4 separate regions of the Homo sapiens genome follow, and regions 1, 2 and 3 are each reported to be linked to region 4. The links are microRNA targets in miRTarBase. Many come from high-throughput screens and were not tested one by one. Region 4 holds a microRNA gene; each other region holds the end of a gene's coding sequence. Distances are from middle to middle.

Region 1 (7,158 bases), 41 Mb from region 4:
AAGAAGAGAAGAAAGAAGAAAGAAGTAGAATGTAATTTCACCTGGATACCAGGGTCATTGCCCAGAAACTAAAAGAGTCCGTCTAGGTATATTGAATTCAATCATGATGTTTATTAAGAACAAAGGATATCAGAATACTCAGCAATTCCAACTAGAGACATAACGAAGGAAGCGATATTCTTTGCAGGTCTAGATATTTGACCTTGCTGCCTTTTCCAACCCATGCTAAAGAATGGAACCGATAATAAGATCATGAGATTAGACTATTCTGCCATGCAGCTGCTGCAGGGCACTTTTAATGTCCCTTTTTCTCAGGCTGTAGATGAACGGGTTCAGCATGGGGGCGACCACTGTGTACATCACTGAAGCCACTGCACCCTTTCTGGGATAAGAGGACATGTCTGAACTGAGGTACCCTCCAAGGGCTGTTCCATAAAATAAGCAAACAACTGACAGGTGAGAGCCACAGGTGGAGAAGGCTTTATACTTCCCACCTGATGATGAAACCTTCAGAATGGAGGAAACAATTTTATAGTAAGAGAAAAGATCCCCGAGATGGGAAGAAAACCAAGTATGGCAGCAAGGAAATACATGACTATGTTGTTGGTGAAGGTGTCACAACAGGCAAGGTGGGGGAGTTGAGAAGGGTCACAGAAGAAACTGGGAATTTCCACATCCTTGAAGCAGGTAATTTGTAAGGCAATCCAATTGTGCAGCTGGAAGTCTAAAAGACTGAGAAAAAAAAGACAACAAAACCAGGAAGCCACAGAAACATGGGTTCATGATGACTGGATAATCCAGAGGGTGACAGATGGCCACAAACCGGTCATAAGCCATCACACTCAGAAGCATGTCTTCCATGCATCCAAAAACAGCAAAAAGAGATATCTGAGTCAGGCAGCCCGCATAGGAGATGACTCTGCTGTGAGACTGGATGTCCACAATCATCTTGGGGACAGTGGTGGAGGGGAAACCGATGTCAGCCAAGGACAGGTTGGAGAGGAAAAAGTACGTGGGGGTGTGGAGGTGGGAGTCAGAGCTGACGGCCAGGATGATGAGAAGGTTCCCCAGCACCATGACCAGGCACATGGACAGGAACAGCCCAAAGAGGATGGGCTGCAGTTCTTAATCTGTACACACCCTGTGTGTACATGCTGGGATATTATTCATAATATCTCTTCAATATTACTGCAAATAATATCTCTTTGATATTACTGCAAATAATATCTCTTTGATATTACTGCAAATATCAGAATGGGTGTACACCCTGTGATATAATTAATAATATCTCTTAGAAATTACTGCTAATATCACAGTGGGTGTACACCTAGGATATGATTCATAATATCTCTTTGATAATACTGCTAATATCACAATGGGTATACACCATGTGATATGATTCAAAATATCTCTTCGATTTTACTGCTAATATCACAGTGGGTGTACACCGTGTGATATGATTCATAACATCTCTTCGATATTACTGCTAATATAACACTGGTTGTACACCCTGTTATATGATTCATAATATCTCTTCAATATTAATGTTAATATCACAGTGGATGTACACCCTGTGACATGACTCATAATATCTCTTCGCTATTACTGCTAACAACACAGTAAGTGTACACATTGTGTGTACACTCTGTGATATGATTAGTAATATTTCTTAGATGCGGTGGCTCACGCCTGTAATCCCAGTGATGTTAGATGGAACATCCTCCTGTTTCCTGGATATTACAACTACCTAAGGCAAATGTGAATTTAAATATTCTGGCTCTTTTTTTCTCTCTCTAAAAGACATGCCTCTGTTTCCCATTCCTAAAGCACCTATAAAATTGCTTTATATGTTTTTGTATATTTCTATTCAACAACTCCTTCAGTGATTAATTACTTTTATAGTTTTCTTCTCTGTACATGGTCATCAAATCTCTGTCTTTGATCAGTTTACTTTCAGCTGTTCTTGAGATTTCTAAAGCATCATTTAAATCATTTTCATGTCATGCACTGACATGGCTTCCTCAAAAATTATCCATTTGAATGTCGTGGTTCTTTACTTTGTTGTGTTCTTGTTATCTCTGTGATAGTGACAGGAGACAGCCAAATACCCAGGCAGATGGGGTGGGTCCCCGGTAAAACCCCACCTTCAAGCCAAAAACAGTCTATAGGCTGAAAGACTGGACTACTCGTCCTGGATGAAACCTGCGACCCAGAGTGAAAACTTCTGTTCTTGTTTACTTGCCCTTTCCCAACAGATTTTTTTTTTTTTGAAAAATGCCTTTTAGCCAATCGAATGTTGCCTTTTTGAATAATACCTATGGTCTGTCCCTCCCCCATTCTGAGCCCATAACAGCCCCAGACTCAGCCATATTGATAAAGGAGATAGAAAGAAATTATTTAGGCAGAGAGTGAGGGTAAAAGAGTCCTTGGAGGAATTTCCCTAACAAAAAGCAACCCCCAAATCATTTCTTTTCTGACAAAGAGAAGCCTGAAAAATCAAGCTGCAGACATAGATAAGCAACTGCAAGCTTGCATGGGTGAATCCTAGCAGCTGCGCCAATAGGAAAGGGCTACTTGAAAGCCAGACACGTTCAGCATAGAGTCTCCATCTTTCCTTTTCTTTGTCAGCCCATGTGCAGTAAAGACACAGGCAACATGGCGCCGGCCAGATAGAGAATCCATCTGCATAATAAAAGATTAGGGTGGGGTGTTAAGTGTTAACAGCTCAGTGGGCCCTTTGCCTTTTTGCATGAAGTGGCTGCCCTCCACCAGCGAGGGCAAAGGGCCAGTATGACAGGCTTTTGTAACCGCACTTGTGGCTCCTGAGCACTTTTCCAGCATCTAGGAAAAATAAGGTTGCATGAACGAATTGAAGGATGTTAAATGCAGGAGGGATCTTATGTCTGATCAAAGTGGCTCTCAGGTAAGGGAAGCTGGAAAAGGGATGGGGCAGGCAGGTAATGAAGTCCAGTCGTCTCCTGCCAAATTCTTCTCTGAAGTTATACCATCGAGCTGTCCTTCTGAGGTCAAAGCTGCTTCTCTCTAATGTCCAGCCATAGTTTCATCTACTGGCTGAGTCTGGGGTTTTTATAGGCATAGCATGGGGTTGGGCAGGGTCAGGGGTGGTTTAGGAAAAGGTGATATCCAAGCGAGAAAACAGGGATATAAGTTCTCACTTTGGGCTGCAGTTTCAGGCTTTTTGGCTTGAGGGTGGGGTTTTGCCTGGGAACTGCCCTTTTCTGCCTAGAATTTCTCCACCCTCTGTCCCTATCACCCTCAAGGCCCCACGCTTCCTGGGGTAATAGGGCCTGGTTATTTCTACACAATGTGAGAATTCTCCAAAGAGCAGCCCTAGCTTTAGAGCTCCCCATAGAGTTGGCAGAAACTTTCTCAGATCTGCATAAACATCTCTTATGGACTAAATTGCACCCCCCAAAATTAATATAGTGAAGTCCTCACCCCCAATATGATGACTGTCTTTAGATACAGGGTCCTCAGGGAGGTAATTAAAGTTTACTGAAATCATAAGGGTCAGGCCCTGATCTAATAGGACTGATATTCTTAGAAGAAGAAGAGACACCAGAGAGATATAACCAGCTATATTTAAATACGTATTTTAATCATACTTCATCCAGTAGGAAAACAAATAAACACTGTTGATCTGTTCATGATCGAACACACAAACAACAAAAACCCACATGCAAACACATAGAAATAAAGTCAGTGAACAATCAATAGCTTAAGAACTCTGTGCCACCACTTGAGATAACAAAGCTATAGCAAATGCTTCAAACCCAAGTTCAGAACTCACTAATGGAGAATTAAGAACGATGATCAAGGACACAATTTTTGAATAGCACATAGGACAGAAGTGCCATCAAGGAAATTACTTGGAGATTAATTGTTAACTTACACCCCCATGTTTATCACGGCACTATTCACATTAGCAAAGATATGGAATCAACCTACGTGTCCATCAATGGAGGACTGGACTTTTTTTAAAGTGGTATCTTAAAGAACTAGAAGGCCAGGCACAGTGGCTCACACCTGTAATCCCAGCACTTTGGGAGGCCGAGGTGGGCGTATCACCTGAGGTCAGGAGTTCAAGACCAGCCTGGCCAACATGGTGAAACCCTGTCTCTACTAAAAATAGAAGAATTAGCTGGGTGGGGTGGCAGGTGCCTGTAGTCCCAGCTACTCAGGAGGTTGAGGCAGGAGAATCGCTTGAACCTGGGAGGTGGAGGTTGCAGTGAGATGAGATCGCGCCACTGCACTCCAGCCTGGGCAACAGAGTGAGACTCTGTCTTAAAAAAAAAACAAAAAAAAGAACTAAAAGTAGAACTACCTTTCAGTCCAGCAGTTCCACTACTGGGTATCTACCCAAAGGAAACAAAGTCATTATGTGAAAAAGACACATACACCTGCATGTTTATAGCAACATAATTAGCAATTACAAAGGCATGGAACCAACCTAAGTGCCCATCAACCAATGAGTGATAAAGATTGTGGTATATGTACAGCATGGAATACTACTTATCCATAAAAAGGAACCAAATAATGTCTTTTGTAGCAACTTGGATGGAACTGGAGGTCATTACTCTAGGTGAAGTAACTCAGGAATGAAAAACCTGGACTTGTTTGTATGTTCAACCAACATACATAAGATCCATATGAACATATCGTATGTTCTCAGTTATAAGTGGGAGCTAAGCTATGAGGACACAAAGGGATATGAACAATATAATGAACTTTGGTGACTTGAAGGGAGAAAGGTTGGGAGGGGGGTGAGGAATAAGAGACTACTACCACTTGGGTGACGGGTACACTAAAAACTCAGAAGTCACCACTAAAGAACTCATCCGTGTAATGAAAAACCACATGTACCCCAAAAACTACTGACATAAAAATAAATTTTTTTAAAAAAAGAAAACATGGTATGTATCTACATATGTCTATATCTATATAGATATCGAGGATATATACAATGGAGTACTACTCAGCCATAAAAAAGGATGAAATCATGTCTTTTGCAGCAACATCGATGGGACTGGAAGCCATTCTCTTAAGTAAGGTAGTAAAGAAACAAAGTCAAATGCTGCATGATCTCACTTATAATTGGGAGCTAAACAATGTATACGCATGGGCATTATAACAGAATAATGGACACTGGAGACTGCAAAAGGTGAGAGGGGAGTGAGAGTTTAAAAACTGCCTTGGCCGGGCGTGGTGGCTCACACCTGTAATCCCAGCACTTTGAGAGGCCAAGGCAGGTGGATCACAAGGTCAGGAGTTCGAGACCAGCCTGGCCAAGATGGTGAAACCCCGTCTCTACTAAAAGGCATGGGTGGCACACACCTGTAATCTCAGCTACTCAGGAGGCTGAGACAGAAGAATCACTTGAACCCGGGAGGCGGAGGTTGCAGTGAGCCGAGATCACTCCACTGCACTCCAGCCTGGGAGACAGAGTGAGACTCCGTCTCAAAAAAGAAAAAAAAGTGCCTTATGTTCACTATTCAGGTAATTGGTACGCCAAAAGCTCAGACTTCACCCTTATGCAAATGCATGTTAAGAAATCTGCATTTGTACTCTCAAAGTATAAAAAAATGTTTTTAATTTTAAAGAGTAAGAATTTCAAAATAAAACATTTTTGCCATTGGTGCTCACAAAACTTCTTAGTCCTGGGGCCAAGGGATCCATCACAAACAAGAGGCTGCCCTGCTGAGGAGACTCCCCAGGGCTCCCTTCACATCCTTGTTCCTCAGGCTGTAGATGAAGGGGTTCAACATGGGGGTGACCACAGTGTACATCACCGAGGCCACGGAGATTTTCTGGGAAGAGTGAGTCACCGCAGAAGTGAAGTGGACCCCAATGCCTGTCCCATAAAATAAAGAAACGACGGAGAGGTGAGACCCACAGGTGGAAAGTGCTTTTTGTTTTCCCCCAGATGAGGACATCTTCCTTATGGATGAAGCAATTCGTGAATAAGAGAAAATGATCCCAAGGAGGGGAAAAACGCCCAGCACACCCGTCATAAAGTATATCAACGTGCTGTTCAGGAAGGTATCAGAGCAGGCCAGCTGGAGGATGTACGTCAGTTCGCAGAAAAAATGTGGAATTTCAAAATCTTTACAGAAGATTAGATGCATCATCAGAGAAATATGGAGGAGGGATGTCATGACACCAATGAGCCAGGTGACAAAAACCAGGAGGCCACAGAGGTGGGGGTTCATGATGATCATATAGTGCAGAGGGTGGCAGACAGCCACAAACCGGTCATAGGCCATCACGGTCAGGAGTAGCGTGTCCAGAATAGGAAAAAACATGGAGAAATAGACCTGTGTGAGGCAGTCCATGTAGGAGATGGCTTTGTTCTCGGTCTGGATGTTCACCAGCATCTTGGGGACGATGCAAGTGCTGAAACAGATGTCAACCCAGGACAGGTTGGAGAGGAAGAAGTACATGGGGGTGTGGAGGTGGGAGTCAGAGCTGATGGCCAGGATGATGAGCAGGTTTCCCAGCACCGTCACCAGGTACATGGACAGGAACAGCCCAAATATGAACGGCTGTAGTTCTGGATCCTCAGAGAGTCCGAGAAGGATAAACTCTAAAAATCCTGTTTGGTTTCCTGCTTCCATGTAGCTGATGTATCTACAAAAGAAGAGGTCATTAGCCAGGCATGGTGGTGGACACCTGTAGTCCCAGCTACTCGGGAGGCTGAGATGGAAGGATCACTTGAGCCCAGGAATTTGCAACTGCAGGGAGCTATGTTTACACCACTGCACTCCAGCCTGGGCAATAGAGGGAGAACTGTCTCAAAAAATAAAAATAAAAAATAAAATAAAAATAAAACTATGTATATATGTATTTATTTTAAAATATACATATTTATTTAAAATTATATTTATTTATTTATTTAAAAGGAAGCGGTAAGAGAAACATCAGTTAACATCCAACGGGCATCCTTCATGTAATAGAAATGTTGTCCATACTATTTACTTGTGATTTATGGACTCATTTTGTCTAATCTTTCATACGTAAATGGAATTCTAAAAAATGAAGTCTCTCATCTCAACCACCCATATATTTAATTATTTAAAAATTAATTATATTCTGTATATTCAACGTATACTATATATGTTATGAGATACATATAGATAG
Region 2 (7,129 bases), not on the chromosome of region 4:
AGTGCCCCTGCTGTTAGCGGCCTGGCCAAGCCACTGCCATCCACTGTCCAGGGACTCCATCAGCCCTGCTTCCCGCCTCATCTCCACACCAGCTGGCTCACCAGGTCACTTTAAGAATAAAGCCGGGCTGGGTGTGGTGGCTCACGCCTGTAATTCGAACACTTTGGGAGGCCGAGGCGGGTGGATCACCTGAGGTTAGGCATTTGAGACCAGCCTGGCCAACCTGGTGAAACCCTGTCTCTACTAAAAATACAAAAATTAGCTGGGCTTGGTAGCGGGTGCCTGTAATCCCAGCTACTCAGGAGGCTGAGGCACGAGAATCACTTGAACCTGGGAGGTGGGGGTTGCAGTGAGCCAAGATCACGCCACTGCACTCCAGCCTGGGCAACATAGCGAGACTCCGTCTAAAAAAAAAAAAAAAAAAAAAAAAAAGAATAAAGCCAAGGTCCCTACCATGGCCTAAAAGCCCTCCAGGGCCAGGTCCCACCCCTCTCACTCCCTCAGCTCCAGCCAGTCTCTGTCTTACTCTTCACTCAGCCCAGAGCACTCTCCCCACCTGCATCTGATCCCGCTGGTTCACTTCCTCAAACGATACCCTCTCAAGGAGACCTACCCTACTTGCTGCAACATGCCCGCCACCACCCAGAATCCCCTGCTCCCTGCAAGTTCCCAAACTCTTGTCACCTTTTAACGTCCTTCCTTAAGCTTATCCTGTCTCCCTCACTAGAGTGCAGGCTCCTCCAGCAGGACACAGCCCCTAACCACTGCTTTCCTAACTCCTGCAGGGTGCCTAGCACACAGCAGGCACTTTCTTCAGGTGTGCCAGGGTCCAGCTACAGCTGTATGGTTCCCCAGAGGCAGCTGGGGCTGTGGGATTCCCTCACCCCTGGCTGGCAGCTGTGGCAGTGTGTTGTGTTCCGGAACTCAGTCGAGCTTGAGTCTCCACCCTCCTGATTGTGGCAGAGGGTGTAGCTCCCTCACCATCTGTTCTAGGGGGTGCTGATTCCTGGATGCTTAACCTATGGCTCACTCCTCCAGCCTTCCAACGAGTCTATAAACTTCTCTTCTTGTATTAACTCTTTCTGAATACCTAGAATGGTTTCTACTTGTCCAGTGAAACCTCATGCACGCCCTGGAAAACACACAAGATAAAGTCTCCAGGCCAACAGTGATCAAGACTGCATTTTTCTTTTTCTTTCATGTAAGCTTTCTATTTTTTTTTTTTTTTTTCTGAGATGGAGTTTCACTCTTGTTGCCCAGGCTGGAGTGCAATGGCGTGATCTTGGCTCACCGCAACCTCCGCCTCCCAGGTTCAAGCAATTCTCCTGCCTCAGCCTCCCAAGTAGCTGGGATTACAGGCATGCACCACCACGCCCAGCTAATTTTGTATTTTTACTAGAGACGGGGTTTCTCCATGTTGAGGCTGGTCTCGAACTCCTGACCTCAGGTGATCCGCCCACCTTGGCCTCCCAAAGTGCTGGGATTACAGGTGTGAGCCACTGCGCCTGGCCCATGTAAGCTTTCTTAAGATGTAAAGACTGCATTTTTTTTCTGACTATATCTTAAATGTAGATGAGCCAAGTAACAAAGTCCAACTTCTGACTCAGTTTTTGGGAAGACAGATCAGTGGTTACCCCAATGGAAGGGAACAGAAGAAATGCTTTAGAAGAGCTGAGGCAGAAAGTGGCCATGCAGAGGGCTCCTAGAACTGGTGTCCCATCACCATCTCTGTTTTTTCAGATGACACCCCTAAGACCTGAGCCCCTTCTGGGCCCCACACTCCACCTGTAGAACTCTGATGGGGCCTTGTGCGGCCGAACCACAATCCAAGAGAGGTGTTCACATCATGTGTCGCTAGCCACAGCCATCTCAAGGGGAAATGCCCCAAATGTAGAAGTATCTGACACCAGGACTGGGGGTTGGAGCACTGGATGAACAGCGTGTGTGCCACTCTTTCACTGTGCACCGTCCTAAGAAAGAAGCCTGTTTCCCTTTGAAGAGCCTAGTGCTGACTGCCCAATTCAATCGGACCACGCAGGGCAGTCTGAGGATTAAAAGATGCTACCTTTAATTCCTTCGGCTAATTCAGAAGTATGTGAAACACAACATACTCATTAACATGGAAGAACTGGATGTGTGTGCATGTGGGTGTGTATTATTTATTTTTCAGAGACAAGGTTTCACCATGTTGCCCAGGCTGGTCTTGAACTCCTGGGCTCAAGTGATCCTCCCACCTCAGCTCCAGAGTAGCTGGGAACGAAGAATTGTATGTATTTCTGAGTGAGATAGAGTACACGATAAAACCACATAATTTATATCATTATAAATAACATACAAAATTTTGGAGGCTGAAATAATATACATGAGCAGTCATAAAATACAATGAAATCATGTGCTTTGCAGCCACATGGATGGAGCTTGAGGTAATTATCCTAACCTCGGAAACAGAAAATCAAATAGCACATGTTCTCACTTATAAGTGGGAGCTAAATAATGGGTACCTATGGACATAAAGATGGAAATAGCAAACACTGGGCACTCCAAAAGGGGGTGAGTGGGAGGGGGGGCAAGGGTTGAAATGCTACCTGAGTACAATGTTCACTATTTGGGTGATAGGTATGACAGAAGCCCAATCCCCACCAGTACGCAATATACACAAACACGCACATGTGGCTGGGCGCAGTGGCTCACGCCTGTAATCCCAGCACTTGGGAGGCTGAGGCAGGTAGATCACTTGAGGTGAGGAGTTTGAGACCAGCCTGGCCAACATGGTGAAACTCCCGTCTCTACTAAAAATACAAAAATTAGCCAGGTGTGGTGGCATGTGCCTGTAATCCCAGCTATCTGGGGGGCTGAGGCGGGAGGATCACTTGAACCTGGGAGACAGAGTTGCAGTAAGCCAAGATCACACCACTGGGCGACAGAGTGAGACTCCATCTCAAAAAACAAAACAGAACAAAACAAAACAAAACAAAACTAACATGCTCATGTACCTGCTGAATCTAAAATAAAATAATATACACTAAAATGTTAAAATTGATTTTAGTAGAATAAAAGGTGACTGAATATTTTAAAAAGTTATGCCTAGATGAATACTTTATGATTTTACATTGCAGCATTTTTTGAACATGGCAGCAGCTACTATGAATTGTCTATCCAACTGCCACTCCAGCTTCCTCCCTACTAACAAAACCCCAGCTCAAGGGCAAGTGTGCTCAGTGCCAGGGGATACACTAGTCGACCCATCCCCCTTTGCCAGGGCCTGGTCCAAGAGTGGGCACGTGGCCCCACTCTATAAAGAGACAGGGGGGAGGTTGCTGGAGCTGCTGACGGTTATTCCCGGATAAGGGCAGAATGAGAAGGCTCCTGTACTACTGTCCACTCTGGCTGTGGACACCATCATTTGCAGAATGATGCTTGGCGCAGGAGCAGCCATTCTGCAATACTGAGGATGGCAAAGCAGACGGTTCCAAGGAAATCCTGATGACATTTTGGCTTCCACCCAACTCTAGAACCATCTATTTACAGACTTTTTGCTATGTGAGATAAACATTCCCATTGCTTAAGCCACCGTCAGGCTAATTTTCTGTTACTTGTGCTGATCACATCCTGTTATAGGCAGTTATCTGTCTGGCACCGAATAAATGCCTCATGTTCACTCTAATTTAAAAGCAACCCTATTAAGCTACTACTGTCTCACTCTTACATAAAATAAAATAAATAAAATCAAGCTTAAAGAGGATAAGTGATTTTTTCCAACCAAAGTTACTGGTGGAGTCAGATTCAAACCCAACCGTGACTCGACAGCCTGGACTCTGCCACTTAAACATGTAGTTAGAAAAGTGTGCAAGCCTATTGTTCCTTCTTTCTGTATTTAACAGAAAGCATATACACAGATGCAGGGAGCAACAAATTTGCATCCACTTGCACTCATGTATAAATTTGGCTTTGGGCTCTTCTCCTCTGTCATCTGTCCATATTCCTTGGTAGAAATGCATGCCTCAGGGGCCTGACCAAGAAGGTGGACTCTCCTCTCTTTTCCCACACTTATTAATAAGACCTAATTTGTGCATCAGGGATCTGAGACAGGTTGTGAGGACTTTGATACGGAGTCATAAGGTTCAAGCCAAGACATCTGAATGGGCGAAATGAACGTGAAAGCAGTACATGTTCTTCCTCAAACTTTCTTGGAAGGGTCAGAAAACAGAAGATTGAAAAATACCCAATATCTAACATCGGGCCATTGAGTTCGTCCAAAAAAAGCAGAAGAGTATTTCTGAACCAAAGAAACAGAATAGAAAGAGAGGATGAGAATGGAGACCTGCTGGCCGTGCATCAGCTATTTAAAGGAAGAAAGGGCTGGAGCCCAGAGTTAACCAAAGCTTAGCCTTAGACCAAACAGGGCTTCCCAGCACAGGTTTCCAAGGAACCCTTTCTGCTCCAGTCCTCTACAGTGAGAAGAGCCCAGAATAACACTGTCCAATGGAGCTGACATGAGCTTCAGCACCAGAAAGGGTGATATGGTCACCAAATATTCAGTCAGCCTCACAGCTGCTGGCTGGGCAGGTTGAGGGCTTTGTAGGAGAAGCCCAGCCTTGACAAATGAGTAACAGGCTTGAGGAACTTTGAAAAGAAGGAAGGTGAGCCTGAAGGAAGATGTACCCAAAATCTAAGGGGCCACTAGGAATCAGGGATGGGGGTGGAGGGGAAGCGGTTCTTCCTGAGCCCCTATGGTTCATACTGTCCCAGAGGCCAGGTGCCACGACGCCAGCAAAGGGAAGTTGTGCCATCAGCGTCTAACAGCCACACACGCTGCCGCATGAGACCTTTTTCTAACCTGCAAACGTCTCCCCAGCTGAACCAGGGAAAACCCCAGCCCTACTGTCAAGACAAGAGGAGAAGCTGTTCCTCCAGGGACAACACAGTACAATGACCTGGTAAAGGGAACAGGATCACAGACCCAAAAAAGTAACACTGAGTAGGTGGCTCTGGCAGTGCTAGGACAGGAGACGGGCAGGCCTCTGAAACCCAAAGTTTTTGAAGTGGGCATCATCGGCCAAGTGTCAAAGAGGCCATTATTCAATACATCCCTAACTTCTCTTATGAAGGATTTAGTTTTTTTGTTAGCAATATATGACTTCGGCTCATACATGAGTACTAACTGCAAAGGAAAGAGTGCAGGGAACATGTCCTGGGCCCAACATGTCCCCCAAAGGCTTTTGTAGGGTGCTGGGAGGGGTCTCTGACTTCTTCCTTTCTATTACCTGCAGCTATTACAGTAACTCACACAGGAGGCACCTGGCTAACAGGAGCCAGGAGAAAAAGGCATAGAACAATCTGACACCATAAATTTAGGGCATCAGGCCCAGGGTGAGGACGGGATATAAAGCAGGAAGGGGCAAGAGTGGGGACGGGAGCAGCTCTAGTCGCTGCTTCTGGGAGATTTAGAATCTCTATTTTGTTTGAAAATAGACTCAGGTAGAGAAAAAGGACATGAACGTTTATTGAGTGCCTGCTGGTTCTGGCCTTGTGCAGTTTTCATCTATAATAGCCCATGAATCCTCACGCCAACCCTGGAGGTAGGTATCATCCCCATTTGTGTCGGATGAGGTATAGGAGGCTCAGAAAGGTTAGGTAGTTTGTCCAAGGACACAGAACCAGGAACTGGCAAGCTGGGACCGAGTGCTTAAGTCTCAGACTCAATCCTTGCTCTCTCTCCTATACTGCCTCCAGGAGGACGGGGGGAGCACCAGCAGAAGCTGCAGTCCACACGCTTCCTGCCCCTGCAACCCAGCAGGCACCAAGAGAAGCCGGCCCCTTCACACAGACCCTCCCCATCTACCCTTGGAGGATGCATCAGTGGAAGAGATTAAGACATAAATACAAAAATAAATAGCAGGGCCAAGTCCCCAGCAGCAAGGATGTGCCATCTCCACGCTGCAGGAAGGTCACTGTGCCATTCACAGCTGCTGTGGGAGGAAGCCCTGGGGGACCTGGAACAATGGTTGCCAAAGGCTGGAGTGAGTGGGCTCAGTGGGCCCCTTCTGGGTCTCACAGATTCAAGAACAAAATGTCTGGAGCAGGCAGCAGCCGTGGGCACAGGCGCCGTCCTCCTCCACCTGCTCATTTTACCGGTGTTTGTGATCCAAGAGGGATTCAAAATCAGGGGAACATACAAGTTTGTGCTTCACGTGTCCCAGGACTGTCATCTCCCCTGTCCTACTGTCTCCAAGGCCCACGGACACCAGCTCCTGCCAATTAACAGAGACAGTGATGAGAACCACCACCACGTGCCCGGCGTGTAGAGCTGTGAATGGGGACATGATACTCCCAGAAACCCCCTCCCTTATTTAGCAGTGGCTCTTCAATCCTCCTTCACTCCTGAAAGGGTCCCTCCTTGCCCCTAAGGAGGCTCTTACCTGCAGGAAGGAGCAGGCAGTTCCCATGGTCACGTCCAGAGTCACCTTGCCCAAGAGGAGTTGCACCCTTCCAGACTTGCGGATGAGTAGCTTGCCAACCTGACCCTCTGTCAGGTCAGCCAGGGTACAAGCATTCTCTGCCAATTTGGCTTCCTGCGGAGAAAACCAGAGGATGGACACTGGGCTAGGAGCTCTTTCCTCCATCTTTCATGAACCCCCTTCTACTCCCCAAGAGAAAGGCACAGCAAAGGTCAAAATGAGCTCCCCAAAGAGTGCCTTCTCCTAGGGCTGTCTGCTATGGTTAAAATACAAAACCCACAGCAAACAAATACATACACGGACAAAATATCAGTTACTGCTGAAGCTGAGTTCTGGTACATGGCGGTTTACGTTCTCTTATTTTTTTGAGACAAGGTCTGACTCTGTCGCCAAGGTTGGGGTATAGTGGCATGATCTAGGCTTACTGCAACCTCTGCCTCCTGGACTCAAGCCATTCCCCCGCCTCAGCCTCCCAAGTAGCGGGGACTACAGGCACACGCCACCATGCCTGGCTAATTTTTGTATTAGCCATGGTGTCACCACGTTGCCCAGGCTAGTCTCGAACTCCTGGGCTCAAGTGATCCTCCTGTCTCAGCCTCCCAAAGCGCTGGGATTAGAGGCATGAGCCACCGCATCTGGCCATATGTTCTCTCATTTGTGTTTGAAATATT
Region 3 (7,000 bases), not on the chromosome of region 4:
ACTGTATGTCGTATTTCCTCTTTGATGTGTGATTCATCGGGTGCATGTGTGCCTGCTAGCTCATTGTTCTAGTCGTTTCCAGCCATTGTGAAAAGGGTGATGGTCCTGTGATTATTCCCATTTCCCAGATGGGGCAAGGGAGACTCAGAGAGAGTGAAGCTGGGTTCTGGCCCAGGCGGCCTGACTGCAAAGCTGTCCACTTCCCCGCCCTGCCCTGCCATTTCTTTGCTAATGACGGCTACTGTCTATAGAGTGTTCATGGGGTGCCCACTCCCTATATTCTTAAATCCTCATGGCCCTCTAAGACGGCAGGCTGTTCCCCGGCTCGGAGGGGGTAAGCCTGGCACAGCCCTGAGCTCTCCCTCTGTCTCTGCCCGTCGACCCTGCAGGTTCACGTACGGCCACGCGGGCACCATCTACAAAGACTTCGTGTACATCTCGGGGGGCCACGACTACCAAATTGGCCCCTACCGCAAGAACCTGCTATGCTACGACCACCGGACAGACGTGTGGGAGGAGCGGCGGCCCATGACCACGGCGCGCGGCTGGCACAGCATGTGCAGCCTGGGTGACAGCATCTACTCCATCGGGGGCAGCGATGACAACATCGAGTCCATGGAGCGCTTCGACGTGCTGGGCGTGGAGGCCTACAGCCCGCAGTGCAACCAGTGGACCCGCGTGGCGCCGCTGCTGCACGCCAACAGCGAGTCGGGCGTGGCAGTGTGGGAGGGCCGCATCTACATCCTGGGCGGCTACAGCTGGGAGAACACTGCCTTCTCCAAGACCGTGCAGGTGTACGACCGCGAGGCCGACAAGTGGAGCAGGGGCGTCGACCTGCCCAAGGCCATCGCTGGCGGGTCCGCCTGTGTCTGCGCCCTGGAGCCACGGCCAGAGGACAAGAAGAAGAAAGGCAAAGGCAAGAGGCACCAGGACCGGGGCCAGTGACCCTAGCTGCGCCTCTTGGGACCATCCTCACCGTCACCTCCCAGGGCTCTGTAGACCAGCAGCAACTTCTTAGTATTCCGGAAACATTATGTACAACTTAGCAGCTTTTTTTACTTTTATGATTCTTGGTATTTCTATGATATCACAGTAACCAATTAAATACTATCTGTAACTTTACATATCTTGCTTGAATAACTAACCCTGGGCCCAGGCAGTGAGCAACCCCTTGTATCTTCACAGGTCTTTGCCCCGTGTTATGATTCCTCATGGGTCCTTGCTGACTGTCCCCCTGAGAGTAGCTGGCACGTGGGTAACACAGAAATTTCTGTAGTGAAGCTTGGGCCTCAAAGGGTTCTCTTAGGCCACCTAGTCCAAGCCTCCCCAAACCTGGCTGAACTTTTAAGAATACAGATGCGTGAGCCCCGCTCAGAATTATGGAATCCAAAACCACCAGGAACGGGGAGGAGGTGGTGCCCAGAAGCTGTATTTTAACTAGTTCTTGGAATTCTGGGTATTAGTCACATCTGGGAATCACTGGCAAGGTCCAGTGTGTTTGTTTTATAAATGAGTGCACAGAGACCACCCATGAGGGTGAGTGAGTGAGTGACCAGGGGCCACGCAGCTCGCTAGACTGTCAGATGAGACATGATGACTTCCCGCTGGGGAGCTGTTCTCCGTATCAGGTGAACGCTGTTTCTGAATAATTCCGTCTTTCCTCATTGGAAACCTTCTTGAATTCTAAAACGTTACAGGTAACCAAAAACGAAAAAAGGTATGAAGCTCTTTATACATATTTTTTTGTAATTTGTGCATTTTTTTCCTTTTTTTTTTTTCTGAACCCACTGTCTTTTATATTACTGATGTACTGAGCTCCCAAATCTGTTTATTTCTCAGGAAAGAAAAAGTGAGTGCTATGGAATTTGCCATCGTTCTCTGTGACTCTATCTTGAGGCGCTGTTGAAAGTTCCTGCACAGAGGAGCACATGTGGATCCCTGAGAAGGCAGTGGAGGGCTCCCTAACTCCCACGCCAGGTCCTGCCCCAGTTTTCTGCTTCTAAGTAGTTTCGTGCTGCTGGGCAAATTCTCGAACAAGTCCGTGTGTTCCCTCATCCACCCCGCTTAGCCACAGGATTAGATGGAATACCCTCCAGGCTCCTCCCGGGTGATAGGGCCATTCAGCCTCTGAGCTGTTCGTACCCGGATGGCATCCCCTTCAGGATGTGGAGCTGGCCTGCACTGACTCCTGCAAACAGTTCCTAAAGCAGGTGTCAGGGTCGCTTGCCCTTTAAGAGGGCTCTTAGCTGCCCGAGTGGATGAGAAACGTGCAGAACTATGGGAGGATAGGAGTGTGATGGGTTTTAAGCATGAGCCAAGGAAGGCATGAATGAGCTGTACCTCACCCAGCATCCGATGGCAGAGATCAGTAAACTTCAAGATGTGCTTCATCTTCAATCCTAGTCTAACACCAGTCTTCCTGCAGACAGTTCCGAGAGCAGGTCTCGATGTCACTTGCCCTTTAAGAGGGCTCTCAGCTGCTCGAGTGGATGAGGATCAATGTGTTAAGATTGATATTAGACTAGGAAAAAAATCTTAGTTAACTTTAATTTCCATTTCTTCTGCTTCTTTGCTGCCCCTCCTTTCCCTTCCCTTCAGGGTTTACTGTGGTTCTCACTGGTCTGTTTATGTAGCCATCCAGAAGAGATGAGAGCATTTTGGGGACTGAAAGCTTCAATAGCCAACTTACTGCCCTCTGTGGTTAGTGAGGAGGGCAGTCTGCATGTTCAGCTAGCTAGTTATTTGCATGTGAAGTCCCTGGAGGCTTACAAACTGTTGAGAGGTTCTGCGAGGCATACAAACAAACAGACCAAAAGGCTGGAAACTCTGCTTGGAGCTCTGCAGCATTCCGGTGTATGAAAGGTTCCGAGAAGTCTCAACCCAGCATTTCCAAACTTCTTTGAGCCTAAAAGTCGTTTGTCTCATACCTAGTCCCAGACCCCCACAAAACATGTTTTGCAGAACTTCTGCCAACTTTGGGATAGCTTACCCCCTTCCTATTCGGGAAAGGTTTTATTGCTTGTAGACCCCTCAGAAGGCAGGGTAGGGTGTACGTGGGCTGTTCTCCCCATCTCAGCCTGGGTCATGAACAAACGGGCAGTTGTTTGGCCTGAATCTCGGGGCAAGTTGGGGAGAGCACATAGAAAGACTCTGTGAGTGATTTGGGGAGTGGGATAGCTTTGACCTTGGAGAGAGGAGAGCCATTGGTTTTCAGCCTAAGCCAGCTCTTTTATGTTTTGCTTCTGGGACTTGTCCCTGGAAATGTGTGAGCTTCTGGCCTCTATTCTGATTTTCTTGTGCCTCATGAGTTACATACGACGTCCTGCGCTTCATATTTTGTGGTGTCTCTCCTGATACTATGAAGGTGGTTTGTAATTGACATGGCTTTGACCCTAATATTACTAAGGTTGGGACCACCCTTTTAAAGGGAGGATAAACAAGTTTCATCTTGTGGGTCAACTTCTAATATTTGATGGTGGCTACACTGTGACAAGAAAGGTTTTTGAGCTTGTTGGGGTCAGTGGATGGGCACAAGGGCACCCAGTGGTGGTGCCCGGGCCAGGTTTTTGTTACTTGTCTTTTTAAGTTGAAAATTCACCCTACTGTGCATGAAAATGGAACTGAAAATGGAAGAGACCATGCCTGGGCAACATGGCAAAACCCCATCTCTACAAAAAAATTACAAAAGATTAGCCAGGGATGGTGGGGCATGCAGTAGTCCCAGCTGCTTAGGAGGCTGAGGTGGGAGAATCACCTGAGCCTGGGAGGTTGAGGCTGCAGTGAGCTATGACCACACCACTGCACTCTAACCTGGGTGACGGAGTGAGACCCTGTCTCAAAAGAATAAAATGTTTTTTAACTCAGATGGGCAGAGTTTGGGCTGTGCTTATGCAGTGGCCATTTGAACCGCACAGTCACGAATGTGGGGTTTTAAACTAGAGTGATGAAGGCACAGGTGCTTGCAGGCTGCCATTTTGAGAGGGAAACAGCCACACATGTCATCATGTTAAACTTTCAGTGTTTCAAGCTATTCTGCTTGAATTTTGAAGACACCTGGATCTTTTTTTTTTTTTAACATTTCAAAATAAGCATGGCAGGCTTCTATTGAGGTTTGGACTTCTCTCATTTCTAAAGAATTAGAGTTGTAACTTCATATTAGTTGTAAGTTTGGGGTTTGGTCCTCACCCAAGTTGGAAAGCTGTTTGCTTAAGACATAGATGTATTATAATAATAGAAGGGAGGGAGTAGAAAGCTGATGAACCCTTGTTACTTATAGCAAACTTCCTGCTGTTTTAAATGCACAGAGATTATTTTATCAACTGTGGTTAGCACGCAATTGGTATTTTTATTGTTCTGCCATTTTATTGAGGCTATCAAGTGGGACTTCAGACCTGGCTCTGAGCAGGACCACACGTGTGTATTTATATTGAGTGCCCTCACTCATGATAAGGTGACTTCATGGAGACCCAGAAACTCACCCTAAGGGGTGTTCACCTTTGAGGTGGGCATCCAGATGCTGAGGGGAAGTGGGGTCCATCCTCTGAGGTCCAGGGGCCTACTTTGTGAGCTCAGTTGTGTTCACCTGTGGTTCAGTGTACCTCGGCCCCTAAGCCAAGTGATCGTTCAGTGACTTGCAGCAATGTGGGAAGTGAGGGGACCCCTGCCACACCCCCCACCACCCCCTGTAGAGTCACTGACCTTCATCCTTCACCCTGGTCCTCCATGGTGCAGCAGCATCTCATGGGCCTTGTGGCTGTCAGAGCCCGTGGTTGGAACCCCGTCCACTGGTCCCAAACCTGGAGGGGCAGCTGCAGATGAGGTTTAGACCTCCTGGTGTCTCCGTGGATTCTGAGTGCCCAGGAGGGGAGGGGAGGGGGTGGCATCCTGGCCTCTAGGATAAATGCCTGGAGTATAGGGCAGCGCCACGGGCACTTGGAGACCCTGTCCTGCGCATCTGCCAAGCCTGGCAGTTTTTAGAGTTTTTTGAAATGTTTTGATACTTTTTGATACAATTTGCTAATAACTGTTTTGTAGAATGCCTGCCGGGGTTTTCCACCTCATCCCTTTCCTCCGGCCCCTTGATTTGTGCTGGACAACAAATGGCAGCACCAGGACCTCGCCTCATGTGGCTTTGTCTTGGATCTTGCCCTTCTCCATCGCTGATGTGATACAGCTCTAGAATTTCGTGAAGTTGCATGCAAAGTTGCATGCAGCCCGTGGGTATGACTGTCTCAGGCCCCCAGCTCATTTGCCAAGAGGAAACCTTAACCCCCCTGAGAGGGTCTGCGTTTCTTCTAGAGCTCCTACCTCAGTGGTGTGCACAGAGTTGGAGACACCTGAGGGCTGGTCCACGTCTCACCTTTGCCATACGGGTCATTTCTTGATCAAATATATGACTGGGGTCCTGGTTTACTCCCGCCCACCCTTTCTTTTAAAGTATTCTTAACATGAAATCCACAAAAGCGGAAACAATGAACCATTCTTGCACTTTACAGAATCATTGTCCTTAGCTTTAGAGGTTGTTAATTTCTTGTTTTTAACATGAACAGAATGTGTGGTTCTGAAGGTGTGTGGGGGTCTCAAGAAATTGTCCTTTGGGGCCGGGCGCAGTGGCTCACGCCTGTACTCCCAGCACTCTGGGAGGCCAAGGGGGACGGATCACCTGAGGTCAAGAGTTTGAGACCACCCTGACCAACATGGTGAAACCCCGTCTCTACTAAAATACAAAAATTAGGCAGTCGTGGTCGCCTGTAATCTCAGCTCTTCCGGAGGCTGAGGCAGGAGAATCGCTTGAACCCAGGAGGCAGAGGTTGCAGTGAGCCGAGGTTGCGCCACTGCACTCCAGCCTGGGTGACCGAGTAAGACTGTCTCAAAAAAAAAAAAAAAAAAGAAAAGAAATTGTCCTTTGGTTGCCTTAGTTACCAGAGTTGAATGAATGTACACATTTCGGTAGTGGGGGGGCAGAGCGGATAACCCCTTCCTTGTCTGTTTCCTTTGAGAAAGGACACTCCACCTTTTCAAAGGTACTTAAAGCCATCTTTACAGATTGCTTGTAATGTAAGGAAAGAGTCATGTCCTTTGGATTGATTGAGGTTAAATCATCAACCACTAGCCCCCTTTCAAAATCAGCGAGATATTTGATGATTAAGTGATTCATTGGGTATGTTCTGGCTACTGATGTTACTGAAATCTGCAATCGTGTATGTTTTTTAATTTGTTGCTTTTGTATTTGTAATTTTATGACATTTCGAAGTTTCTGTGTCTTAACTCTTTTTAATTAATTTTCTGCACGTTGCTTTTTTCTCTTTGTTTTTAATTCCATACAGAGTATTCAATTCTTGAAACACATTAAAATAATTTGCTTGCTAGGGTATGGTTTATTTTATAATTACATTCCTAGTCTTGTGTGGTTATTGTAATGATGTCTGGTCCTAATTTCTCTGCCCGTATGAAAAAGAACCCCTTGCCTGTTGATCCTAAATATAATTTGGAAATTAACCAGACTTCCTTTTGGTGTTGTGGGGAGGCTGGGACATTTCAATTCTGCTTTCATTGTGTTTCTAATTACTGTATTTTGCCAGGAATTTCATTCAGTTCCTTGATTGCAGGGCTAAGTCCCCGTGACCTGAAATGAAACTATTTGCTTAAATGTGTGTCAACTGGGGTAATTTGATTAGAAAAGAAACACAGAAACCAAGGGAAACAGCTTATGACAAGCAGTGTGCTATCTTTATCAGAAAAAATGCAATCACAATACTCTAAGAACCAGCTCTGTTTTCCTTCGGGCGCTCCCCTGCCTTGCTGGGGTTTTGCAAGGCCACCAGCAGAGAAGCCCAGGCACGGTTGTGCACCCTTTCCTTGTCCCTTCGGCAGGTCAGCATCGGGAGGGTTGGGGAGGGGTGTCTGCGCAGCCATCATACCTGATAAGGTGGTTAGAATTTGCCTCTGAGCCAGTGAGCCCCAAACGGGACCCGCTGCCCGGTGCCGACTTCCTCACCTG
Region 4 (7,158 bases):
GGGAAAGTGGCCCAGAGTCAGGGCTCGGGAGATGCGCTGTGGCTCAGGAGATGTGCGCCGTGGCAGCGATGGGAAAGTGGCCCAGAGTCAGGGCTCGGGAGATGCACTGTGGCTCGGGAGATGAGCGCCATGACAGAGATGGGAAGGTGGCCCAGAGTCAGGGCTCGGGAGATGCGCGCCGTGACGGAGATGGGAAAGTGGCCTGGAGTCAGGGCTCGGGAGATGTGCGCTGTGACGGAGGTGGGAAAGTGCCGTCACAAATGGAGCATCGTCTGTGGCCAGGCTTCTTGCTGGTTTCTGGTTCTAACTTGATGACCACTGGGCAGTGAACGTTTCTGTAGGGTGAGCGTCTGGGGGCAGCACTGCTGGTCTTGGTCTGCTGCACACACAGCAGTGGCCTTTCTAGACAGAGGAAGCCCAGAGCCTCTCCAGAGGGCCTGTCCCTGTGTCCGCCTCCAGCTGCAGCACACGAGGGTTCCCAGCACTTTAGGAGGCCGTAGCAACAGGCGTCAGTCGGGCGAGTATCTGCCTGGATGACGGCAGGAGCCACCTGCTGGGTGGCTGCACATCCAGTGAGACATGCTGCCACAGGCCTTTGACTCGTGCAGGTCTCCCCTCTGAGGACTTCTCCCCTGTGTCTTTTGCTGTCTGTTGGGTGCTTTCTGGGAAACCCTTTACTGATAGGCCATGGCTGGGCCAGTCTTGACAGCTCCCAGCACCTCCTCTTACTCAAGGCTATGGCCATGCACCACACAATCTCATTTCTGTTTTTTTTTGAGACGGAGTCTCACTCTGTCTCCCAGGTTGAAGTGCAATGGTGAGATCTCAGCTCACTGCAACCTCTGCCTCCCAGGTTCAAGCGATTCTCCTGCCCCAGCCTCCCGAGTAGCTAGGATTTCAGGCACGTGCCACCATGCCCAGCTAATTTTTGTATTTTTAGTAGAGATGGGGTTTCACCATGTTGGCCAGGCTGGTCTCAAACTCCTGACCTCAGGTGATCCACCTGCCTCAGCATCCCAAAGTGCTGGGATTATAGGTGTGAGCCACTGCGCCTGGCCTTTTTTTTTTTTTTTTTTTGTAGAGACAGGGTTTTACCACGTTGGCCTGGCCAGGCCGGTCTCAAACACCTGGCCTCAAGTGATCCGCCTGCCTCAGCCTCCCAAAGTGTTGGGATTACAGGTGTAAGCCACCATGCCTGGCCCACCATCTTATTTCTTTCTCCCCAAAGCCGACAAGGCTCCTCATTTTCCTGAAGGGGAAACAGCCCATCAGAGAGGGTCAGTGGCTTACCCCCATCTGTGCCCCACAGTCACAACCTCATGCAGGCGTGTCTGACCCCAGAAGGTGCTCCCCTGGGATCCTCTTCTAGAACAACATCATGCTCCATGCTCTTTGCTGTGCTAGGAGCTGGGTTATGGTTGGGGCCTGGAGTCAGCCCTCTGAGATGGGCTGCCCGCTGGCTGCCAGGTTCTGTGCCAGGCAAGTGCTGACCCTGGTTTCCTGTGACTGCTGTGATGAATTACCACCAGCACAGCGGTGTCAAACACCGGTTCTGGATGTCGGAAGTCCAACATCCATCTCACGGGGCTAAAATCAAGGCGTGGGCAGGGCTCGTCCCTTCCGGGGGCCCTAGAGGAGAGGCCGCGTCCTTGCCTTCTCCAGCTCCTAGAGGCCACCTGCTTTCCTTGGCTCGTGGCCCCTTCCCCCATCCCCAAAGGCAGCAGTGTGGCATCTTCTCTCCTGCCTGACCTCTGTTCCATCCTCACATCATCTCTGACTCTGAACTGTATCTTTCCCTTATAAGGACCCTGTGATGACATTGGGTCCACCTGGATCACCCAGGATCCTCTCTCCATCTCATGATCCTTAACTTTATCATATCTGCAAAGTACCCCCACCCTTTTTTTTGTTTGGAGACAGGGTCTTGCTCTGCCACCCAGGCTGCAGCCTTCACCTCCCAGGCTAAAGCGATCCTCCCACCTCAGCCTGCCAAGTAGGTGGGTCTACAGGCATGCGCCACCACGCTTGGCTAATTCTCATATTTCTAGTAGAGATGGGGGTCTCACCATGTTGCCCAGGCTGGTCTCCAACTCTTGGGCTCAAGTGATTCTCCCACCTCAGCCTCCTAAAGTGCTGGGATTACAGGCGTGAGCCACCCTAACCCCCAGAACCTGTGAATATATTCCCTTGGATTCAAAAGAGCCTTGCAAAGTCTGTTCCCTCACAACAGGCAGAGGGACCCTTTAAAAACCTAAGCCAGATCAAAAATACACCCATTTTCTCAGTTTGTTGTGGAGAGAAGATAAACGTGTGAATCCACCCAGAGACCTGTGGGAGTGCTGGACAGGCCGAAGGGGTCCGGGGGCAGCTGTTCCTGCTGTCGTGTTAACATCACGCTGATTCTCTGCTCACCACCCACAGCGGCTTTCATCTCCCAATCGGTAAAAAGCCAAGTCCTCACTTCAGCCAACAAGGCCCTGCAGGGTCTGGCTCTCTGTTCCCTCCCTGTCCTATCTGCAGCCCTCCTGCCCCATGGCTCAGGCCGCAGCCTGCAGGCCTCCTTGCTGCTCCTCCTACACACGGGCTCCGCCTTCCTGATGGCCTTGGCACAGGCTGTTCCCTCTGCCTGGGATGTTCTGTTGCAGAGGATTTTCAGTCTTTCCTCCTTAAGTTACTCTGTTTTGTTTATTTTTAAATTTTTTTATTTATTTAGAGACAGCTCTAACTCTGTTGCCCAAGCTAGAGGGAGTGCAGTGGCACAGTCATGGTGCACTGCCGCCTCGACCTCCCAGTCTCGAGCAATCCTCCCACCTCACCCTCCCGAGTAGCTGGGATTACAAGCCTGCGCCACCACACCCAGCTAATTTTTGTATTTTTGAAGAGACTGGGTCTCACTGTCGCCCAGGCTGGTCTTGAATTCATGGCCTCAAGTGATCCTCCCACCTCGACCTCCCAAAGTGCTGGGATTATAGGCGTGAGCCACCATGCCCAGCCCTGACAGTATTTGATGTATGTGTTTTCGTGGTGCTGTCTGAAATGTAAGCCCTGTGAGGACAAGTGTTTGGACCACTTTATTCACCACTCTATCCATGGAGTGAACAGCAGTGCCTGGTACCCCATGGGCACCCAGTAGGTGCTTGGTGAATGAATGAAGGTGCAGAGCCAGGCTTGACATGTTCCTGAGCCCTGTGAGGTTACTGAGATGCAATCATTTTGCAGATGAAGACACTGAGTCCTGGTGGGCCGTGAGGTCAGCGCCAGACTGGATCCTGCGGCCGCCTGGCTGTCTGTCCCTCTCGCTGGCCTCGCACACCCTTCCTGGGAGGAACAGGAGAGGAGGGGAGGTGTGCAGGGCTGGGGTCACTGACTCTGCTTCCCCTGCCCTGCATGGTGTCCCCACAGGGACAGCATGGACAGTGTCAAGCAGAGTGCGGCCCTGTGCCTCCTTCGACTGTACAAGGCCTCGCCTGACCTGGTGCCCATGGGCGAGTGGACGGCGCGTGTGGTACACCTGCTCAATGACCAGCACATGGTGAGCCCCCAGCCCTCACACCCCCGGATACCCAGGGCTCCCACCTCAGCCCTGACCCCCCTGGATGCCCGGGGCTCCCACCTCAGCCCTCACACCCCCGGATACCCAGGGCTCCCACCTCAGCCCACGCACCCCCTGGATGCCCGGGGCTCCCACCTCAGCCCTCACGCCCCCGGATACCCAGGGCTCCCACCTCAGCCCTCACGCCCCCTGGATGCCCAGGGCTCCCACCTCAGCCCTCACGCCCCCGGATACCCAGGGCTCCCACCTCAGCCCTCACGCCCCCGGATACCCAGGGCTCCCACCTCAGCCCTCACGCCCCCTGGATGCCTGGGGCTCCCACCTCAGCCCTGATCCCCCTGGATTCCTGGAGCTTCCCCCTCGGCGCTGACGTTCACCAGACACCAGAAACCATGATCCAGTGTCCCCGGTACTCATTACCTGCCCAAGTGTCCAGAAACCCTCCCATCCCCATCTCTGACACTCCCCTGGCTGGCCAGGGATCCTGTCCAGTGACCCCCACACCCCTCACCAACCACCCAGTCCCTTAGAAAATCCCACTCTGTTTCTAATACCTGGAGATTCCCCCAACAGCGCCCATCACCTGCGCACCAGCGCAGAAACCTTGACTGTCCCACCCCCACAGTCCCAACCCTCTAGAGTCTCGCCCCTTCACTGCTCCTTACCCAGCTGCCTGGGGTCCTGCCAGGGACACCCCACACACCCAGGTCAGTGCTGGCCATGGCGCCCGAGGCCCCGTGGCCTCCTCACCCCACCCCTAAAGCACGCACAGTGACACATGTGCACACCCCTAAACCCCATCTTCCCGACTGCACACACATCCCGACCCTGTCCCGCTCCTGAGCCTCTGCTCTCAGGTACCACCTCCCCCAGGGGCCTGACTTGTCTCTCCTCTGCCCCTGCAGGGTGTGGTCACGGCCGCCGTCAGCCTCATCACCTGTCTCTGCAAGAAGAACCCAGATGACTTCAAGACGTGCGTCTCTCTGGCTGTGTCGCGCCTGAGCCGGGTGGGTGTGGCCTAGATATTGGCTGCTGGAGGTGGCCCTGGCATCCCTATGCCCTCTGACACCCCTCAGGCCCCCACTCTCCCTGAGAGGCAGCCCAGCCCAAGGTTTACAAACTCAGGCTCTGAGCTGGATTCATCCTGGCTCGGCCTCTTCCTGGCTGGGTGGCCCTGGACAAGTGGCTTCACCTCCCTGGCCTCAGCTGCCCCCTGTGTTCAGTGGGGATAATACCGGTGCCCACCTGGAGGCACAGAGCGCTGTGGATAGAGTGCTCAGAACAGGGCCTCGCGGGCCGAGCACCCCGGGAGCCAGCCGCCCTCATGACCTCCTCCCTCTCCCACTTCTCTCTCTGTCTCCCACTTTCCCTCTTCTGGCTTTGCCTCCCGCCTCTCTCTTTCCTGTGCAGCCTCTCACTCCTGCCTGGCGTCCCTCTCCCACCTTTGCTCCTGTCCTGCCCAGGAACATCCCCTGAGGCCTTGTGCATGCCAGGCTCCATGTCGGGTGACACCAGGGACACAGATGAGTCAGAACCAAGCTCTGCTCTTAAGGAGCTCCCTGTCCTTCTGGCAGGGAGGTGACTCAGTCACAGATTGTCAGAAAAGGGGTGACTCGTGCTATAATGGAGGTAGGATAGGTCACCCATAGGAGGCACTTAACACAGCCTGTGAGTCCACGAAGGCTTCCTGGGGGCGGCGATCCCAGAATTGAGACTTAGAATACACATGCGCATCTCCTGGGCAGTCAGGAAGAGGCCTGGATTCGCAGGCAAAGAGAAGAACACACCAGCTCGTGCATCCACTCATTGTTTCTTTTTTTTTTTTTTTTTTTTTTTTTTTGAGACGGAGTCTCGTTCTGTCCCCAGGCTGGAGTGCAGTGGCGCGATCTCGGCTCACTGCAAGCTCCCAGGTTCACGCCATTCTCCAGCCTTAGCCTCCCGAGTAGCTGGGACTACAGGCGCCTGCCACTATGCCCGGCTAATTTTTTGTATTTTTAGTAGAGACAGGGTTTCACCGTGTTAGCCAGGATGATCTCGATCTCCTGACCTCGTGATCCACCCGCCTCGGCCTCCTAAAGTGCTGGGATTACCGGCGTGAGCCACTGCGCCTGGCCCACTCATTGTTTCTTTCTCAGGTTTTTTTTTTTTTTGAGACAGGGTCTTGCTGTCGCCCAGGCTGGAGTGCAGTAGTGCAGCCATGGTTCACTGCAGCCTCTGGCTCCTAGGCTCAAGCGATCTCTCGCCTCAGCCTCCCGAGTAGCTGGGACTGCAGGTGCCTGGCTAATTTTTGTATTTTTTGTAGAGATCGGTCTTGCTTTGTCGCCCACACTGGTCTCAAACTCCTGGCTTCAAGTGATCCTCCCGCCTCAGCCTCCGAAAGTGCTGGGATTACAGGTGTGAGCCACTGCACTCAGCCTCAGTCATTGTTTCATTCATTCATCACACATCTGAGTACTGCAGTGTGCCAGGATGACAGTGAGGTAGGAACACAGACCAGCACGGAGGTGGGACAGAGCTTCCTGGAGAAGGGCTTTTCAAGGTTGAATAGGAGTTTGCAATGAGGAAAAAAAGTCACATGATCTTTCTTTTTTTTTGAGATGGAGTTTCGCTCTTATTGCCCAGGCTGGAGTGCAATGGCGTGATCTTGGCTCACTGCAACCTCTGCCTCCCGGGTTCAAGCAATTCTCCTGCCTCAGCCTCCCAAGTAGCATGGATCACAGGCATGTGCCACCACGCCCAGCTAATTTTTGTATTTTTAGTAGAGATGGGGTTTCACCATGTTGGTCAGGCTTGTCTTGAACTCCTGATCTCAGGTGATCCACCCACCTTGGCCTCCCAAAGTGCTGGGATTACAGGCGTGAGCCACTGCACCTGGCCATGATCTTTCAATCTTTCACTAATTCCCTGCCTCTTCCCCGAACCTCTTCCTATCTGACCTTGTATTAGGCCTAGGGACCCAAAAAAGGGTCAGACCCAATCCCTGCCCCTGAGTGGCTTCAAGCCTTGTAGGGGGACTACAGGAAACAGCCTCCAGGAGCCGGTGCGCTGTGTGCTCTGACGGAGGAAGCCTGGGGCATGGGAGGCTCAGAGCCGAGTGAGGAGGGGGCCCTGGGAAACTGTCACACAGAAGGGAACCAGCAGAGACCTTTCCTGCCCACCACACACCAGCATTACTTGGAAAGATCAACCAGCCGGGCTTAGTCCTAGTTTTGCCCCCATTCAGTGTGCCTGACGCTTCCTCGCTCCCTTCCCAGAGCCTCAGATTCCTGCTTCATAAAACCATTGCATTGGTCGGGCATGGTGGCTCATGCCTGTAACCCCAGGACATTGCGGGACTGAGGTGGGAGAATTGCTTGAGGCCATGAGTTCGAGACCAGCCTGGGCAACATAGTGAGACCCTGTCTCTACAAAAAAAACCCACTAACAAAACCATTAACACTGACAGCACTGCCCTTGGAAGGCACCATTTGCTCCACCCTGGCATGTGGACCCACGTGCCCCTCCCACCCCAGCCCCCAACTTATTTCTTGCTCTTCCCCGCCAGATCGTCTCCTCTGCCTCCACCGACCTCCAGGACTACACCTACTACTTCGTCCCAGCACCCT

What was found. Region 4 holds the annotated microRNA hsa-miR-6799-5p (GGGGAGGUGUGCAGGGCUGG, at 3,339-3,358, shown strand). A microRNA usually pairs through its seed, bases 2 to 8, with sites in the 3' UTR of a target mRNA and lowers its output. Matches are read on the target gene's strand: a 7mer-m8 pairs with bases 2 to 8, a 7mer-A1 pairs with bases 2 to 7 and ends in A, and an 8mer does both.
Region 1: the mRNA of OR7D2 is a reported target of hsa-miR-6799-5p. Seed matches in the 3' UTR shown: 7mer-A1 at 4,775-4,781, 8mer at 4,232-4,239 and 7mer-A1 at 4,065-4,071.
Region 2: the mRNA of POLR3D is a reported target of hsa-miR-6799-5p. Seed matches in the 3' UTR shown: 7mer-A1 at 5,973-5,979, 7mer-A1 at 5,231-5,237, 7mer-m8 at 3,309-3,315, 7mer-A1 at 2,710-2,716 and 7mer-A1 at 2,556-2,562.
Region 3: miRTarBase lists KLHL36 as a target of hsa-miR-6799-5p. Seed matches in the 3' UTR shown: 8mer at 981-988.

Annotation. Positions count from the first base shown.
Region 1 is chr19:9,185,259-9,192,416 of GRCh38, reverse strand. It overlaps OR7D2 (olfactory receptor family 7 subfamily D member 2), which reads right to left. Exons shown (of 3, transcript NM_175883.4): 3 at 3,599-6,648. The coding sequence starts at 6,635. The coding sequence ends at 5,697. It also overlaps the pseudogene OR7E16P. Among named protein-coding and RNA genes, the nearest start is that of OR7D2, 9.9 kb to the right of the region's middle. RefSeq lists an enhancer at 2,450-2,972.
Region 2 is chr8:22,249,518-22,256,646 of GRCh38, reverse strand. It overlaps POLR3D (RNA polymerase III subunit D), which reads right to left. Exons shown (of 9, transcript NM_001722.3): 8 at 6,420-6,572; 9 at 2,046-6,251. The coding sequence ends at 6,129. It overlaps PIWIL2-DT (PIWIL2 divergent transcript), which reads left to right. Exons shown (of 2, transcript NR_134293.1): 2 at 1,741-2,071. Among named protein-coding and RNA genes, the nearest start is that of POLR3D, 7.9 kb to the right of the region's middle.
Region 3 is chr16:84,661,189-84,668,188 of GRCh38, forward strand. KLHL36 (kelch like family member 36) reads left to right here. Exons shown (of 5, transcript NM_024731.4): 5 at 390-6,498. The coding sequence ends at 945. Among named protein-coding and RNA genes, the nearest start is that of KLHL36, 16 kb to the left of the region's middle. RefSeq lists an enhancer at 2,417-2,636 and a silencer at 2,727-2,776.
Region 4 is chr19:49,788,533-49,795,690 of GRCh38, forward strand. MIR6799 (microRNA 6799) reads left to right here and starts at 3,334; the gene lies at 3,334-3,402. It overlaps AP2A1 (adaptor related protein complex 2 subunit alpha 1), which reads left to right. Exons shown (of 23, transcript NM_130787.3): 5 at 3,403-3,532; 6 at 4,459-4,560; 7 at 7,098-7,158.